2 separate regions of the Homo sapiens genome follow, and region 2 is linked to region 1. Evidence: fine-mapped QTL for protein levels in blood plasma. Region 1 holds a variant in brackets. A gene starts in the other region. All regions are shown on one strand. Distances are between the middles of the regions.

The links. PIP is the posterior inclusion probability: the model's chance that the variant is causal. Protein levels are from antibody-based Olink assays in UK Biobank. Linkage for the fine-mapping came from a reference panel and not from the study's own genotypes, which makes the PIPs less certain.
Region 2: it holds the start of ACP6, and the variant in region 1 is fine-mapped to the plasma level of the ACP6 protein (UK Biobank, PIP above 0.99).

Annotation. Positions count from the first base shown.
Region 1 is chr1:119,969,790-119,979,555 of GRCh38, reverse strand. All of the region lies in intron 5 of NOTCH2 (notch receptor 2), which reads left to right. Among named protein-coding and RNA genes, the nearest start is that of ADAM30, 78 kb to the right of the region's middle. The variant A/G (reference allele first, on the strand shown) is at 7,147.
Region 2 is chr1:147,665,448-147,675,343 of GRCh38, reverse strand. It overlaps ACP6 (acid phosphatase 6, lysophosphatidic), which reads left to right and starts at 4,820. Exons shown (of 10, transcript NM_016361.5): 1 at 4,820-5,514. The coding sequence starts at 5,296. RefSeq lists enhancers at 4,358-4,427, 4,868-5,117, 5,758-5,817, 5,029-5,972.

The sequences.
Region 1 (9,766 bases):
AGTTACATGTTGGACCCATTTGGTTAGTCAAAAAATGTCTTTTGATTTAGTTGCCTTCATACACAAGTTGTATCTTGACTAGATATCAAATTCTTGGGTCACGAATTAATCTCATCAAATTCTTAGACATTGTTCCTTTGTGTCTTCTGGTTACTATTCTAGGGAAATGCAATGCCAGTTGAGTGTTTCTTCTTTTTCATAAGTAACACTGGGCTCCCTGCCTTCTTTTTCATTTGTTGTAGAGTTGTCAGGAAAACCTATTATCTTTGCAATTAGGTCTTCATTCTTTCTTCTGCAAAGCTAAAATCTCTCTTGATTTTTAATCTGTTCATTTTTTGTTTTGTGTTCTGTGAGAGCTCTCTTAAGGTTCTTCTTTATAACACTGACTTATATTTCTTCATTGTCAGGTCAGTCCTTTATAGCTTCTTCTGCCTGCCTCTCAGCCCCTTTGATCAGAGACTAATGTCCTATATTATTTTTTATTTCTTTGTAGAACGTAAACATGTCTAAATGTCTTGAGTGTACAGGAGCAGTTCTTTCTAAAATGTATTAGCTCCTGTAAGTGAATAATTTTCCCAGTGTGCTTTTCATCAATATCTTAAGCATTACATTCTCCATGTTTTATGTTGTAGAATCTTTTAATAGGTGCCATGTTGTTTTTTTCCATTTTACTCATTCTGAGCAGAGTAACTGCCTGCCCATAGACAGGGGAGGTGGGTGTTCCCCTGGATCCCCTCACTCTCAACCTGGCTGCAGCTAGTTTTTCCTCCTGGTGCAGTGAGGGGCTTTTATGTAAACTGGCTCAACAACCCAGCAGCCTAAGGTGGGGAGAGCCAGAGAGTGGGGCCTCCTAGCAGGAGACCAAAGCTTGGCACCACTTTCTTCTCTGTGGCGGGGGTCAGCTTTCTGAATGCCCAGTACTGGCCCAGCCTCCATGGCAATCCACCCAGTGGCTGAGCCTGGATGCTTTTCAGTGCTGCTGCCTCCGGAATCTGCCCCAGATGCACTGCAGTATTTCTCATTGCTATAGTGGCCAATAGTGGCCACAGGAGCCTGGACTCTGCAGTTCTTGAAGTTTTTGTTGACCTGGAGGGGTGAGGTGGAGTTCAGTCCATTCTCCTCACTGCAGCAGAGTGGACTTTCTGAAACATGCATTGGATCGAGTCATTTCTTTGCTGGAAACACTTCAATGGGTCCTCCTTGTCTTTGGATTTAGTCCCAAGGCTGTGCATGTAACTCCCTCTCCAGCCACACCTCTCTTCACTCCCCTAATGCATTTCTTATAATTCAACCACAAGAATTTTTTTTCATTGCCGCAAATGAACCATGCTGTCTCTTCAACTCAAGCCTATGCTTTCTGCCTGAAATACTCCGCACTCCACCCTTTCTCTACACACTCCCTCACACACTTCTCCCCTCTTTCACAACCTGGCACGCTCCTCCCAGGCCTTCTCTTAAAAGTTACATTCTCTAGTTCCTCTCTATTCTCCCTACTCTGTACTCCCAAGGCAATAGGTATCTATGAAAGCACCTGTCACTCTGTGTCATCATTGTTTGTTTGGTTATAAGTCTGCTGTTTGTAAGTTCTGCAGGCAGAAGCCATGGCTGTTTTGTTCACCATTATAATCCCATTGTGTATAGTCAGAGCCTGGCACATTGTGTTTGTGTGCGTGTGTGTGTATGTGTACATATATATATTTTAGATAAACGAATGAATGAATTACAGCATTAAATTTTCCAGTTGTTCCCAGCCCAACCTCATCTCCAAATTCACAGCTCTTCTTACCTTTCTAAGATACTTTAGTATTTTTCTTCAGTGTGTACCGAGTTTGTACTAAATCTGTAAAATTAGACTAATTATATATGAAGACTATAGTTGACAATCAATGTAAAGCACATATCATCTGGAACCTAGAAATAACTCAGTGCATATGTTTTTACTGCTGAGGTTAGTAGTGACGTTGGGGAATAAAAAGAAAACCCGCTCTTTCTCCCCTAGTTTCCTGTCAGTGGCAGTGTTTAGAAGAGGAGGACTGCAGGAGCTCTACCGCAGAGGGCTGACTGGGCTGGTGTGTTTAGGGAAAACTCAGGTTTCAGTCAAAGAAGGAAGTTGTACACCTTAATGTAGAGTTGCCCTTGAGGCGTAGTTGAAGGATTAGTGGGCAAAGGCAAGGTGAATCTGGGTGTGATACAAATGAGATAGAGTTCAGTGACACAGGAAGGGGACTGGGATGAGGGGTTTGCGTGTGAACTGGTGGTGTAGACAAGGGTGACGGACACTTTGGGTAGGAACAGAATAGAGATACTGTTGCTATGAGAAGGGTGAGTTGAAAGATAATTATTATTTTGGGATTAGGATAACTTAAATAAGAGAACCTTAAGCAGATAAACATTCATTTAACGAATATTTATTTAAGCTTGGGATTGTGTTTCATGCTGGGGATTCAGTGATGAGGTAAACAGCTACCCCCCATTTCTTCATGGCACTGACAGTCTAGTGAGAAACACAGGCATAGACAATATAATTCTCCATAAAATTTTGAACTGTACTAAATGCCTTGCAGGAAACATAGAATGTATCTGGAGAGCATATTAATAGGCAGAACTAATTGTGTTTAGTGACAAGCAAGTAAGGTCTCTTTGAGAAAGTAACATTTTCCATATAGACAATGAGTAGGAGTTGGGGAGAGTGAGGATAAGACTATCCCAGGCACAAGGAATAACGTGTGCTAGCCACTGAGGAGGGAAAGAATGTGATCATTTTGAGAAATGAAAAAAGCCCAGAGTGGCTGGAGCTAGTGATATTTCATGGTTAGAGCCTAAAGAGATAGGCAGAAAACACTGGTAGGTGTTAGAATTTTATCCTAAATGCAAAATAATTCATCAAAGGATTTGAACAAGCGAGTGGCGCATTCTACTTTACATGTTAAGATCATCCTGGCGGCTCTTTAGAAAATACATTGGTCATGATGCAGGGAAACCAGGCCTTTGAGAAGTCCTGAAAAAGATGATGCTGTCTAGAATTAGTGGAGGAATTTCTTGCATTTATTCTGTGTATGAATATCCTTTCCACAACTACATTATCCCCTTAGCCACATCTATACTCCCAGACCATCCTCTCAGTAGGCAGGCCCTGTAGACAGCAGTGTTTATACAGAATGTTTCACCCAACTTTATTCCGAGCAGGTGATGGGACACTCAAGCTTGTTCTTTGTTCTTCAGCTCCAACTTCAGCAGCGTGATAGAAAGTCTCCTGTGTATGGAGCTGAGGTTTTGTAGGATAGAAGTCCCAGGAATGATCTGCTCTGACACAGAAAGAGATGAAACTCCAGAACTCAGGGGCTTGGGTGACTGCTGGTTGGAAAGGTATATAGGAGATGGAGCTCTCTTGACTCAGCCATAGAGGAGAAGGTAGCAGACTCAGTGCAAGGGCCAGCCAAGCTCATTTTTTATTTGTTCCTCTTGTGGAGATTGTTGTTGCAATGAGAGTTGACCCTTAACTGGACCAGTAATGTGATCAGACTTTTTCCCACAGACTTCACAGTTGAGAGATGACTGGAAAGGATGAGAGTCGAGGCTCAGCACCTTACTTTTTTCAATTCCTTTCTCTTCTTTTCTTTCTTTCTCTTGTTGTCCCCCTCTATTTTTTACCCATCACTTGTAGCTCCAAATCAGATTAGTGGTTTGTGGGTGGGGCCCTTGCCTTGAGAGAGCCATAATGAGCTGTTTGTGTCCCTGCGTGTTACAGCTCATAAATGCTGACTGTTTCATGGTCTTTGGCTCACTTGGCTGAAGCGTGGTGCTAATGAGGCCCAGGCCATGGTTTCTATTTCAGCACAGACCTCTTAGGTTCACCCTGTTATATTTACTGCCACAGGCTGTGTCCATAATTTTTTTTTTTTTTTTTTTTTGAGATGGAGTCTTGCTCTGTCGCCAGGCTGGAGTGCAGTGGCACGATCTCAGATCACTGCCACCTCCGCCTCCTGGATTCAAGCGATTCTCCTGCCTCAGCCTCCCAAGTAGCTGGGACTACAGGCATGCACCATCATGCCCAGTTAATTTTTGTATTTTTAGTAAAGACGGGGTTTCACCATGTTGGCCAGGATGGTCTCAATCCCTTGACCTCGTGATCCACCTGCCTCAGCCTTCCAAAGTGCTGGAATTATAGGCGTGAGCCACCACGCCTGGCTGACTGTGCCCATAATCTTACTTGTTCAGCCTGAAGCCAGAGGATGGAGCAACAAGAAAAGATCAGCATGGAGGTGACCCTACTCCTGCAAAACCAAAACAGTATACTTCCTTTGCTAATGGTGGCTTGGTAATGCCATGTCATCTTCACTTGTAGCACTCTGAGTTTCTTCCTCTTTCCCTACATCCCTCAACAGTCAGCTCAGATTGGCCTTCTTTATTTTGAAAACTAACTTGATCTGCAGCAATCTCACACCCCAAAGTCTTTATCAGCACTGAGCTATTTTCACTTCTAATTATTTTGCCAACTAACTGTGCAAAGTTGGGCAAGTTGCTATACCTCTCAGGTCCTAGTTTCCTCATCTGTAAAATGAGCATGTTAGATTAGATGCTGTCCAAGGTCAGTTCCACCACTGACACCAAGTGTCTAGTACAGTGGCTGGCATAGATACTGAGGTGAATGGCAGACACAGTCCCTGCCCTCCTGGAGCTTATAGCGAAATGGGGAAGAGACTGTAAAGAGTAAATAAATATGAAATCACAGCTCGTGATACATTCCAGGATGGATTGAATGGAATGATGCAATGGTGGAGAATCATGAGGAGATGTGCATTTGGAGACCTACTCTATTGATAAGACAGGTACCTCGCCATGTGAATAAGCAGGGAAAAAATGTTTCAGGTGGACAGAGCAGCTTATGCAGCAGCACTGAGGCAGGAGAGAACTTAATGTTTGAGGAATCAACAAAAGTTATTGTGGTTAGTATAAACTGTACAAAGGAGAGGTGTAGATTTGAGTATATTTACGAGGCAAAAGTGATCAACCAGAAAATTGTCAGTAGTTACAGGTGGCACTCAGTGTTTAAGGTATCAGCCAAGGATATGCTAGTTTGACATTTCATTTCAGATTATTCCAGAGTCATTGTGGCATTAGAGAGGGTAGTTTTTAAAAACAAGTTATCTTCTTTCTCTTTTGCCCATAGGAAATAAGAGCCTAACTAGTCCACTGCCTCAGTCCTGATGTTAAAAAAATGACAGTAGCCTGCAATATCTGGCAGGTGGAAATTACTGAGAGGGATAATTATTGCTCTTGAAAACTTGCCTAACTGAGCTTTGTGCAACATTTTGGGAGTTCACCAGCAAAGTTTGTGTGTTGACACAGGTGATGATACATGCTGACACTTGTTTGTATTGAAGATTTAGTAGCTTGGTAGGACATGGAAACAATACAGCTCTCCTGTTTCACCAAAGGCTTTTATTTGCTAGGTAGCCTATAACTTAGTGCTCTCTCCTGCTTTCCCTACTAACATAAAGTCATTTGCTTTTAATCCCTTCTATGTTCTATTGGCCAACTTACCTTCAAACACAGTATCGATCATGTCTTTCCTCATCCTCCTTTACTTGTTGTATCAAGTTCCGAATTCATACTCGAAGTCAAAGCCTCAATGACCTCCCACTTTTTCTTCTTCTAAAACCCCAGCCAAAGAATACACTGCAGTTATTTTAATATGTTTAAGACTTAATCCTGTATTCCTCTGTAAATCTTCAACCACCAGCCCAGGCTGGTGCTTTCTTGCACCAGTGGGATAAGCTCAATGACCGTAGAGCATACACGTTAAGACCTCTAGGTGATCGCCAAGAACTTTTCCCACTCAAATATCTAGTGACCTTCTGCCTTTATTCCTTTCTAATACGAGTGTTCCTTAACTGTCTTATGCACCTATGCCTTCTCAGGGTGCTGTAAGACCCTGGGATCAGCGACCTCATCTGTAGATTGTGTTGATCACATCCAGGGCTGAATACTCAACTCTGCTGCAGTCAAAGAGCATCAGATTTGCAGTCAGATCAATCCGGGTTTCAATGCAGCACTCTCACTCACCAACCGTGTGAACTTTGGAAGATTTTATTTCCTTTTTTTTACCTTCCTGAACCTGAAGTTTTTTATTTTTAGTCTTTAGCATTGGTTTTCTCCTGTGCCAGGAGGGTGGTGACGTGAAGGGAGTTGTTATATCATAGCAGATGTTCCACTGGGAATTTTAGAATAAGCAAGTTTTATGGCCACCCTGGTTACTGTTTTTCCTATTCTGAATTTTAGAACCAGTTGATAGAATTTTAATAGGGAGAAAATAATCTGGCAGAAATAGGACTAGGAGGAAATGTGAATTTGTAGAAATGTGCCTGAACCTTAGAGAAGTGTGATCCATCCAGTAGCTAATTACTTATAAGCCACTATCTTCTTGGATCTCTAAATTTCCTGTCCCTAACAAGCACTATCGAACAGATGCATGGTCCAAAGGTGTTCAGTGAAGGCAGCTAATCTTCAAAATTCAGTCTCATTCAAAAATCAGTGGACTGTACCTAAAAATACATTTCCCTTTTAGACAGGAGTTTGCAGTCACAAGTGTTTCCAGTAACCAATTGTTTGAGTCATGATTTGAGTCCTCACCTCCTCCATCCTGTCCACTTCCCCATGTCTGTGTGCCCTTGGGAAGCCCGAGACATGCAGAGATGGCTTGATATGTTCAGGTTCTCACCTCAGGTCTTTGTTAAGAATTTTAGAGTGAGGCAGCTCCAGTTCAAATCTCAACTGTCCTTCACTCACTGGCTTACAAAGGCAAATTATTTTACCTCTTTGAGGCTGTTTCCTCAGATATAAATGAGACAATTTTTATGGGAGCCCAAGCACAGTGCTTGCTTCTCAGTAGGCAGTCAATGGCTACTGGTTTCCTCTCCCAAGAGTGCCACATTTCCTTTCCTTTATTTACCTAGTTTGTCTTGCTACATTATTTCAGTGTCTGTTTATTATGGTGCATAAGAAATGTATACAAAATAGCTTTAAACACATTGTGTCTTATAGTACCCAAAATTATCACAAAGCCTCAATAAAGAAAAATGACATCTAAATTGTTCACATTCAGCAAGTCAGTTTGGTTGGTGGGCAGTGGATATTTGAGTTAGC[A/G]TAAGTATAATAGATGAGACTCAGCAATTTTCATGTTGCAGTAGCTCTTCACCTACTTCTTGGTCATGTTTTCATTTCTCAATCCCACCTGCATCCTAATAACACAGCTGTCATTACTTTGAGGTACCATTTCTGCTAGCACTATAAGACAGCAAAGTTTCTGTAATAAATGACATCATCTACCCTGAGGGAGATTATTGCCGGTGAGCTCACTCCCTCCCTCCTTCACTCTCTGATTCCTTCACTCACTCACTGACTCCCTCCCTCCCTCCCTTTCTTACCTTCCTCCCTCCCTTTCTCACCTCCCTCCATCTTTTACTCTCTCACGCATTCCCTCCCTCGCTCACTCACTCCTTGCAATCACTCCCTCACTCACTACCTCAGTGTTCTCACTTTCTTATTCATCTTCTCCCTTCCTTCCTCCCTCATTTCCCTCATTACCCTCATTACCTCCCCCATTCACTCCCTCATCCCTCACTCACTCTTTCTGTATTAATACTTTGGGATGCAGTTGACACAGCCTCGTTTCAAATTAGAAAGACCTGTTGCAAGAGGCATCTCTCAGAATGGCTATGCCACTGAGTAGGCTTACTAGTAGTTGGGCTTCAGTAGCAATTGGAACCAACAACTTGAATGCCACCATGTTTTTTTCTCTTTGTGCACATCTTTTCTATTTTTCTTTTTTTGAGACAGGGTCTTGCTCTATTGTCCAGACTGGGGTGCAGTGGCATGATCATGGCACAAGTGATTCTCCTACTTCAGCCTCCCAAGTAGTGCCTGCAGGCTGGTCTCTAACTTGTGGGCTCCAGTGATCTTCCTGTTTGGCCTCCCAAAATGTTGGGTTTACAGGTGTGAGCCACTGTGCCTGGCTCTCTGTGCACTTCTGATTCACCCATATCACTTTCTCTGCAGACCAGCCTCCTCATCTTTTTGGTCTATGTGGCAAAGTGGTCCTACTCCAATAATTTGGGAGAGATACAGTGATGTAGCTTGGATCAGATGCCCATCTTGGGTCAGTCAGCCATGGCCAGGAGGGTTTGATCATGTAAAGACATGGTTGCTCCTTCAAGAATTATATGGCTGGAGTTAGGAGAAGAGCATGGAAGGGTTATGCCGAGCACGGAGTTCCGGAGACATCCACATACCCATCCTGCCATCCTAGGCAGTTGGCTCTTGCTGGGAATACAAAAGAACCCCTCTAAACTGCAGCCAAGTAGTGGGAGACAGATGTGCAACCAAATAAGTGTGATAGAGTGATATTGGTTCTATAGTAATGGAGGTACATGTTAGATAGGAATAAAGAACAGGCAGTCAGTTAGGTTAAGTCAGACACAACTAGCATCCGCGAGTAATGATGGCTAACAGGCCTTCTACAGATACATGAGCCAGTCAAATTGCTAGGTATTCTGGGTCTAGAGATAGCCTTGGCATTTTCCAAGCACAAATATTGTGTTCTTTTTTTATTAGGAGGCCTCTTTATCAGAGTGCCTTTTAAAATTATTTGTTGAGTTTTATTTACAAAGGAAGAATGAAGGACACCTTGACATATTTTTATTTTCAACAACTTGTCATGTTTTAGAGAATTCGGATGATCTAAATTTTAGTTCCTTTGATAGCTCTCTAAACTGTTTTTAAAAGACCTCAAACAAAACCAATCACCACTTTATTTTATAGCTCATATGATCTGGCCCTATACTGTTTTTGTTAATCACAGATTCCTGGTTGTAAGTTGAAGACATTATCTTGTTCTTTGTTAAGGGATGTAGGAGCCTTTGCCTTAGTCTCCATTGTTGCTATAGTGGTGACCTGCAACCTAGCCAGATGTGGGCTCATGTTTAGCTTCCTTTAGTGTGATCTTTTTCAGGCAGTGCATACCAGTCCTTTTTCCATCTCCTAGTACATTGGGTGGACTTTCTTTGTCTTCTTCCACAAATCCCCATCCTTTAAGTATGGGTGCCTCAGGCTGAGCACAGCTTGCTCCAGTCTCATTATTCTTGGCCTTGCCCTTCACATCCATACTTCACCAGAGATTTTCAACATCTTTCATGTCTTCTCTGTACCCTATGTTGCTTGCCCTAACATTTTCAAAAATTAGACTTTTTATTTTCAGATACTTGTAGTTTTGTGCAGTTATAAGAATTAATATAGAAAGATTTCCTGTACCCTTTATCAAGGGTCTCCCAGTGGTAACATCATCTTATGGAACTGTTGCATAATATTACAACCAGTGTATTGACGTTGATACAGTCAAGATATAGAACAGTTACCCTAATGTTTGGCATATAGGTTCCTTCTCATTATTTTTTCTTACTCATTTTTATACTCTTCTCTCCTTGCTCTTCTTACTTATATGTTCATTGACCCAGGGATTAGTTAACTCGAGGGTCCTACAGGTTTTACCTTCTCTTTGATAAGTTGGCTAAACCCTAATGTTGTTAGAGTTTCTAACGGTAGTAACTATTCATCTTGAAACGATTTGCCTGGAAAAAATATCATTTAGATGGCTCAAATTGGCCTTAAAATTCATGTGAAGACCCAGCCTTCTGGAGCTCTGCTTGCCTTAATTTCAGACAGGTCACATGAAGATGAAGAGTGTGGGGGGCTGGTATGGTACTAGTCC
Region 2 (9,896 bases), 28 Mb before region 1:
GGTGCCAGGTTCTTTTTAACAACTAGTTTTTGGAGAGTGAGAATTTATTCACTTCTGAGGGAGGGCATCAATCTATTACTCATGAGGGATCTACTGCCATGACCCAACACTTCCCATTAGGCCCCACTTCTAACACTGGATCAAATTTCAGCATGAGGTTTAGAGGGGACAAACATCCAAACTATAGCACCCATTTTATAAAAAACACCTCCATACTAAAACTAAAACTAACCCCTCTTTGACTCTCTATCCATAGTTTTCAATGTGTGATCTGAAGAGCTTCTGTATCAGAATCACCTGGATGCTTGTTTAAAACACAGAGTTCCAGACTCCACTCGGCTATAGTAAGACATATTGGTGCTCCTGTACCTACATTCTAACAAATAAGCCAAGTGATTATGATGTACCATAAAGTTGGAGAAAACTGTTCTCTATTGGGCTCTCCATGGTACCTGGCAAACCTCTGGCTACCTAGCTGTGACCCTCTCTCTTGTGTATACTGTGGGTATTTTACTTTCTCACATTCCTCAAATTGTCAGGAGCACCAATCACCACCCCTCTAACTCATACTCTGATTTTGCAGAAAAAAAAAAAAACAAAGAAAAAAGCCCCATGAATCTCCATGCCATGAATGTATTTCACCCATGCCTATTCTTTCTTATTCCCCTCCTATAAACATGGAAAATACATACTTTTTCTTTCTGAAGCTAATTATGCCACTTAAGCTCATTTCTGATTTTATCCTGCCCTCCTAAGCACTTAATCAGATCTATTATCCTGTCTCTCCTTATCTGGAAACTTATTTCTATCAACATTTAAACATATATACAAGCTTCTCTCATCTTCAAAAGACAATTCTCCCTTAATTTCATGAATCAAACACCTCCAGCTACTGCATTTTTTCATTCCCTCTTCTCAGCTAAGCTTCTTAAAGATGTCTACACTTACTTCCCACTTGCATTCCATTTCTGCCCCATTATTGGATTAGGATTCCACTATTTCACTGAGACTGCTCTCACTTAACTAACAGAAGATTACTTTGTTGTTAAATCCATTGGACACTGGACCTTACATTACTTGGCTTCTCAGTTCCATTTGACACTATTGTCCATTCTCTTTTTTAAAAAAACCTTTTTTCTCTTGGCTTCCTTGATACCTAAGTACCTTATGATCTACATATTCAAAATTAACTTGGTCATTTCTGCTTAACCTCCTTCCCAGGTGCATGGCATCATCTGCAGGTTGTCCAAGCCAGAAACGTAGAGTAGTCATCCTTGACTCCTTCCTCCTTCTCACTTGTTAACTACCTCTTACATGTTTCATAGCTGGATTGCTGCAACAGCCTCCTAACGGTCCTTTCTCCAGTTTTGCTCCCATCCAATCCAGAGTAATACTCTGGAGGGAAAGATCATAGTTATACTGGCCACTAGATTCTAAATATTTTCTATAGGTAAGTTTGAAAATTAGGCACCAAGCTTCCTGACAACCAAGACAAAATTGAAGGAAAAGTAATCTTCATACTTCTTAATGCTTGTTCTAATTCTAACACTCTAAACCAAATTTCTCAGGAGGAGATTTATAAAGGAAGCAATAAATGATGTAATGAGCAATGGCTCAACAACATTCCTATGATATATCCTATAATTTCATTTGGCAAGTATTTATGGAGTACTTACTACAAGCCAGGCACTGTGCTCACCACTGGGGAAAAAAATGTGAATGTGGTTGTTTCTTATCTAATCTCATTATTAAAACTGAGTTTTTACATAATATTAAATGCAATCCTCTGAAGACAATTTGGCTGGGAAAGGGCTTATTTCCCGAGCCATCCCTGCCTGGTAGTTTAAAACCAGGGTCAAAATAACAGCTACTCAGTGTTCCCCTGCTTCCTGCAACCACCCTAACACCCCCACCCACACGGTCCTACCCTGGGTCAGGACTTCCAGTCTCTCTCTTTCTCTCTCTCTCTCTCTCTCTCTTTTTTTTTTTTTTTTTTTTTTTGAGATGGAATCTCACTTTGCCGCCCAGGCTGGAGGGCAGTGGTGCAATCTCGGCTCACTACAACCTCTGCCCCCAGGTTCAAGCGATTCTCCTGCCTCAGCCTCTCGAGTAGCTGGGATTACAGATGTGTGCCACCACACCCGGCTAATTTTTGTATTTTTGGTAGAGACAGCGTTTCACCATGTTGCCCAGGATGGTTTCAAACTCCTGACCTCAGGTGATCTGCCTGCTTTAGCCTCCCAAAGTGCTGGGATTACAGGCGTGAGCCACCGCGCCCGGCCCAGCCTCTTTTAAATTGCAGCTCACTGCCACTACTATCACACACAAAATACATCTGGACTCCCCATGGTTTGTCTCACATGTGTTGACAAACAGTGCTTTTAACAACCACATGAAATCAGCTATTTTCCACCCTCACTCTGGTTTCTTTTGGAGATCTGCTGCTAAGTTGTTCCCCACACTTCCCCACACTCCCCCTCCAACAGGACACATGAGCCCTGACAGGACCATTGCTGTATTAGTCCGTTTTCACACTGCTATAAAGATACTACAATTTATAAACAAAGGAGTAAATTTACTCACAGTTCTGCATGGCTGAGGACAGGGGGAGGCCTCAGGAAACTTATAATCATGGCAGAAGGGGAAGCAGGCACCTTTTTCACAAGTTGGCAGACCAGAGAGGAGAAAGAAGGAGGAATTTCCAAAAACTTATAAAACCATCAGATCTCCTGTGTGGAGAGAGAGATCCTTCTTTCTCTTCTTATAAAGCCATCAATCCTACTGGATTAGGACCTCACATTTATATCTTCACTTAACCAAAATTGCTACTGGAAAGGGGTCCTGATCCAGACTCCAAGAGAGAGTTCTTGGACCTCGGGCAAGAAAGAATTTGGGGCGAGTCCATAAAGTGAAAGCAAGTTTATTAGAGAAAAAGAGAAACAAAAGAATGGCTACTCCATAGACAGAGCAGGGGCATGGGCTGCTCAACTGAAAATACTTATGGTTATTTCTTAATTATATGCCAAACAAGGGGTGGATTATTCATGAATTTTCTGGGAAAGGAGTGGGATTTCCTGGAACTGAGGGTTCCTCCCCACTTTAGGCCATATAGGGTAACTGCTGGCCCCGACATTCGTAAATTGTCATAGTGCTGATGGGAGTGTCTTTTAGCATGCTAATGCATTATAATTAACGTAAAATGAGCAGTGAGTTTGACCATAGGTCACTTCCATCAACATCTTGCATTTGGTTGGTGTTGGCCAGCTTCTTTACCACTTCCTGTTTTATCAGCAGGGTCTTTTTGACTGGTTTCTTGTGATACCAGTCCTGCTGACCTCCCCCCTCATCCTGTGACTGAGAATGCCTAACCTCCTGGGAATGCAGCCCAGTAGGTCTCAGCCTCATTTTACCCAGCCGCTATTCAAGATGGAGTCACTATGGTTCAAATGCCTCTGACAGAATCACCTTCTAAAAGTCCTATGTCCAAATGCAGTCACTTAGTGGGTACGAATTTGGCGGGGGACACAACTGAGTCCATAGCAAACAGTATTCGATTTTTAATCACATCAGCACACACAATAAGACTCTGAAAAGTGAGTCCCTTGGCTGGGCTAGGGAGAAAATTGTGACAATATGTAGTGTTCCAAAATGACCCTCCTCCCTGCATCAGGGAGGGGAGCACTCAGAACCTTCCAGCTTGGTGAACAGAATTTGTTCTCAGGCCAGGAGCCATGCTCTGTAAGTATGTTGTCTTTACATCTGGCCCAGTTTGATCTTTGGAGATAGACACATAGTGGGTCCCAGATTGTGTCCTGTTGCAAAGATCTGGAAACACAGGCTTGGGATACCTGTATATCAACAGAAACCAGACTAGCAGGTGGTAAGGCTGGCATTGTTCTGTGTTCTTAGGTTTTTTTTTGTTTTTTTTTTGTAGACGGAGTCTTGCGCTGTTGCCCAAGCTGGAGTCGTGTGGCGCGATCTCGGCTCACTGCAAGCTCCGCCTCCCGGGTTCACGCCATTCTCCTGCCTCAGCCTCCTGAGTAGCTGGGACTACAGGTGCCCGCCACCACGCCTGGCTAATTTTTTTTTTTTTTTTTTTTTGTATTTTTAGTAGAGACGTGGTTTCACCGTGTTAGCCAGGATGGTCTCGATCTCCTGACCTCATGATCTACCCGCCTCGGCCTCCCAAAGTGCTGGGATTACAGGCGTGAGCCATGGCGCCTCTTAGGTTCTTAATCACTGGGACACCCACAGGCAAGGCCTGGCTTTTTCCACAAGAAGTATTCTGGATGGAAGTAAACACATCAGTGACCTGAAAGTTCTACATGATTACAATGACTTAAGCTTGAGAATTTTTTTAAAAACAGAGAAGGGAGTAGTAAATGACTAAATATAAAGCACCTAGTGCTGTGTTTCGCAAATGGCAATCACTCGGCAGGTGTCTCAGCTCCTCGCTGCAGCAACCAGGCTTCCAGGACTGGAAGGAAGTCTTCTACATTCAAAACTAGACTCAAACTACTCCCCTCCACCACCCAGTTCTACTCCTGCGCTCGCGATCCTCCTGCCTGGCAAACTCCATGGCCCGACAGATTCACTACCACTCCACTGCCGGACCAGGCACGTCCGTGGGCCATCCACGCCTGGAAAACGGCTGGCTGGGCCGGAGGGGCGAGGCCCGCAGGCGAGGGGGGCGGGTACAAGCCACTTCTTGGGAGCCGCGGTACGCGCAGCCTTGTGGGAGTTGTAGTTTCCGCAGCTCTGAGTCTCCAGGCGAGGTGTCACCACAGGACTCGTTTTCCCGTGCTCCTGTGCGCGGGTCCACTTGGGACGGGTCCCTGAGTAGGTGAGGAGGTGGGTAGGAGCTTGCTTATAGAAAAGTGGAATCGAGTAGTCCTTGCTGGTGGAGCCGCTGCCGCCAGGGAACTCAGGGCCGGCTCCTGTTCCTTCAAGAGTGCTGGAGGCCAAACTTGAAATACAAGTTTAATGTTCCTCGTCGGGCAAAAGATAAGGATCCGATCTCCCCCGGCCCGGTGTGCAGCAGGAGCGACCAACCCCGACCCGGGTTAAAACTCCCAGGGACTCTTCGCTGCTGCCACCTCTTGTTCTCTCCCCCGTTCCCACTCGGGGTCTCCCTCAGGGCCGGGAGGCACAGCGGTCCCTGCTTGCTGAAGGGCTGGATGTACGCATCCGCAGGTTCCCGCGGACTTGGGGGCGCCCGCTGAGCCCCGGCGCCCGCAGAAGACTTGTGTTTGCCTCCTGCAGCCTCAACCCGGAGGGCAGCGAGGGCCTACCACCATGATCACTGGTGTGTTCAGCATGCGCTTGTGGACCCCAGTGGGCGTCCTGACCTCGCTGGCGTACTGCCTGCACCAGCGGCGGGTGGCCCTGGCCGAGCTGCAGGAGGCCGATGGCCAGTGTCCGGTCGACCGCAGCCTGCTGAAGTTGAAAATGGTGCAGGTCGTGTTTCGACACGGGGCTCGGAGTCCTCTCAAGCCGCTCCCGCTGGAGGAGCAGGTGAGAGGTCGGCCCGGGCTGGGGCTGGTGGGGCGAGGACCGTGTGCCAGGCCAGGAGTCTCGCCCTGACACACATCTTCAGAGCTTTACTCGCGCGGAGCGGGGCTCGGGTTGGGTCCAGAAGAAGGGAAAACAGCAGTAGCCAGTGACTCCCCAGGCTCTTGAGCAAAGGACCTGCTGGGGTTAGGACAGCCCCGGAACTTCCAGTTTTGCCCTGATGGCGCAGCCATCAGTAAGCGCTGCTTAAGACGCATGGGAGTCGCCTGGGGATCCTGCTACGTTGCAGATTCTGATTCAGCAGGTGTGGAGTAGTGCCCCAGGTCAGCATTTCTATTAAGGGTCTAGGTGAACTTGAATACAAGGGTGCAGTGCACTTCTGTGTGACCATTTTGAAGGTGGTTTGTCAGAGCTGAAGGGCTGAAGGGACTTTAGTGATAGGAACCACTCTTAACTGAGATTACAGTGGATAAGAGGTCGTTGCCTTTGGAAACAAACTTTATAACTGCTTTTTCTCAGGGTTTGCTGGAGGCCATTTGAGATCTCCTGAAGTTTTTTTTTGTAACAAGTGTTGTATTCTAGGGTTCTCCTTTTCTATTTAAGGTTACTAAACCTATAGTGGGAGGGATCTGAGGTCGGAACAAATTTAAAATGGGCTAGTCTGTGGCAGTAATGTTTTAAAAATCTGTCTGGTTTTGTCAGGATAATTATGACTAAAGCACAAATAGTTTAAAAAAAAATGATTATCTTTCCTGGATGTGACTTTTTATAGCAGAAAGGCCTAGTGAAGAGGAACAGGCAACCTGAAATCCCCAAACTCCCAGGTATTACACCTGTGGAGTGCTTTTGTATCGTTGGTCTTCCAGGTTGATGTTGGAGGAGGTCGAAAAGATTGTCCAAAATTGATGTTAGGTATACTCTTCATAATAACAGTTGCTTTCTAGAAACCTTCAGGATTGTGTCTTTACATTGTACAACTGGAAACCCATTTTTCAAGGTTGGCCGCACATGAAATTAAACTTCTAAAGCATTTTCCACATAAATAAATACATTTGGAAGGCACTTAATTCTATTACCAGGTTTCTAGTTAGCCTTACTCTGGCTTTACCACTTGCTCTCTGGAACCGGGATTTCTTCTTTCATTTTGATTCTTTGATTTTTTTTTCAGTCTCTTACTTTGCCTTTTTATATTAGATCACTAAATTTTCCTTATGATTTTGTATACAGCCCATCTCTGATGCTCCCCTTCCCCCAATTCTTCTCTATTTATTCTTGGTACAGAAGGACTGGGGAATCACATGTAGGAATATATATTATATTCACGTAGAAGACAAAAAATTATCAGTGGTAATGGAGAGTAAAACTTTGAATGTGTAGGCCTAGACCTAGTATGTACCATATATATATATATATATATCCTGAAGGCACTAGGAAAAGATTTAGATTCTTTTAGGGCTTTATCCCTAAGGGAGAGTGGGTGTGTGATGGATATCTTCTGCCTTTATGGTTGAAAGGTCCGTTGTAGCTTAGGATACCAGCTTCATTCATCTTCAATCTGTGTAGCCACAAAATAGCATCTGAATCCATGGCCTGACTTTGCAATTAGAGAAGGCATATTACCTCTCCTTTCTGCTCATATTCTCCAGACTTTAGACAGATGCTTTAAACGTCTTCGGCTCTCTAGTATAAAGTTGTGTGCATGAAAATCAGGGGTGAACCAACTCTCTTTCAATTTAGGCTATGAGCAAATATTAGCCTCTTAAAACTTGTTTCTGGATAGTCTCTGTCCAGTGTTCATTTCAAGATCCAATTTGATAGAGGTTGTTATTGGGATTTTTTTTTTTGAGACAGAATCTTGTTCTGTTGCAAGGCTGGAGTGCAGTGACGCGATCTCGGCTCACCGCAACCTCCGCCTCTCGGGTTTAAGCAATTCTCTTGCCTCAGCCTCCCGAGTAGCTGAGACTATAGGTGCACACCACCAGGCCCGACTAATTTTTGTATTTTTACTAGAGACGAGGTTTCATCATGTTGGCCAGGATGGTCTCGATATCTTGATCTCATGATCCGCCTGCTTCAAGTCTCCCAAAGTGCTGGGATTACAGGCGTGAGCCAGCACCCGGCCGTTATTGGGATTTTTTAATCTTCTTGGTTCTGCTATTAATTATAGTCAGAAGGGACTGCCTGGCAAAAATTTTTTGTCTTTGGTACATGTTTCCTGATTTCTGACTGGTTTATAGATTAATATATGTGACAAGTCACTTCATTCAGCCATCTCACAAATTCTCAGAAAGTAGCATGATTTAAAACTAGATGTTTTGGCTGGGTGTGGTGGCTCATGCCTGTAATCCCAGCACTTTGGGAGGCTGAGGCAGGTGGATCAAGAGGTCAGGAGTTCGAGATCAGCCCGGCCAAAATGGTGAAACCCCATCTCTACTAAAAATACAAAAATTAGCCCGGTGTGGTGGTGGGCGCCTGTAATCCCAGCTACTCGGGAGGCTGAGGCAGGAGAATTGCTTGAACCCGGGAGGCGGAGGTTGCAGTGAGCCAAGATTGGGTCACTGCACTCTACCCTGGGTGATAGAGCAAGACTCCATCTCAAAAACAAAAACAAAAAACTAGTGTTTTATTGGGTTGTTTTCTTATGGCTTGAATGGCTGTTGGTTTAACCTGTTTTGCTAAAAGATTGTGCTTTGGAAATAAAAATATAGAACTTGATTGGCCATTTTTTTTCCTGATCATTAGAGCAGATCCAAATGCACTATCAAAAGAAAAGATTTGGCACTGCTTCCAGGCTTCCCTCAACTCCCCTGGGTGTCAAGATGGCCTCCACCCAGGGAGATTCCTCAGTTTTTATAAAATAAAGTCCAACCTACCCCAGCTTCACTGTTGATTAAGACATTTGGGTCCCTATTTATTTGACAATATAGATGAGCTGGGAAGCATAATGTAAGAATCTTTTATTGCTTAGTACCTTTCCAAAACTCAGCTAAAAGAAGCGGTATTCAAGAAGCATTACATGAGGTCCACCCATTCTTCAGGATCGATGGTTCTTAACCGTGGTGAACATTGGAGTCAACTGGAAAGCTTTAAAAAATACACATGCCAGGGTCTCCCTCCGAAGGATTCTAATTTAATTGGTCCGGGGTATCCAGATAATGTAAAAGACTCTCTGGTGAAGCTTGAGAATTATCTGGACTGAAGAGCATTAAAAAAGTGGAGGCCCCACTTTTTTGGGGGATAATCCAAATGCGGTTATCCCAGGTTGGGACTCAGGCATCAGTAACTTTTAAAAAATGTCCTGGTAATACCAGTATACAGACAAGGTTTAATATGATTGCTTTATTTTAAAATCTACACCTGGGAGGTTTTTGTTTACTTTTATGTAGATTTGTTCTTTTACCTGGAATGTAGTATATCAATCCCAGTACAGAATTGCCTTCGCTGAAATGTGCTTTGGTAAGAGGTTATCTTTCTGTGTTGAGAGAACTAGGAGAAACAATCCCACAGAACTCATTGCTGTGACTGCTGAAAAGATGTTCATTATATTACTCTATCCTCTTTATGAGGACCCTTGGGAGGAATTTGTCTGTTAGCATTAGGAATGGTGTGCTTCTCCTGAACAATTGGCTTGCTTTTTTCTTTAAACTAGTCTAGCTGATCAAGTTTGTTTCTTTATGTAAAAGTCAGGAAGCTGGGTGCCAAGTCTGTGGCCCACCTATAGTAAGTAAACAGATCTTCATGGTGTACATATTTTAGTAACCGTGTTACTGCATCCATTTCTTTGTCCCTACATTTGTTTGCTTTTGTCTTTCTTGCCTACTTTGAATTGGTTGTCTTACTATATTTTAATTTTTGCTATATCTACTTTATTACCCCTTGAAGAGGGGTATACACAAAATAAGTAAAATTATCAAGTTAGTCTTTGCCACTAACTGGGAAGCTTAAGAGCAGGAATGAGAATGAGAGTGTGTATGTGGGGTGGACACTATTATATGAAACTGATGTATCATCCATTCTTGAAAATCTGAAAACTGTACTTTAGACTTGACGTGACCTGGACTCCAGACTCCTAGGAGACGCCAAGGGTCCTCTCTTGGTGAATGTGCCTAACAGATTTCTTAGTGAGGCTGAATGGCCCTGTGGAGCTTTGTGTCAGGCCCTGTGGTGGACACTGGAACTACAAGGATGGATAATTCAGTCTTGCCTTTAAAGGAGTTTCAATGTGATAAAGCAGAGACAACAGATATCAATTAAGGCAATATGCTGGGAGCACTGGGAACACAAAGGAGGTGTCTCCAAATGTCCAAAACTGAAATCAGCTTTCCACCTGTTTTTCTGTCTTGGTCTTAGTTTTAGTCAAGGAATATCTCCATTACAAGGCTCAA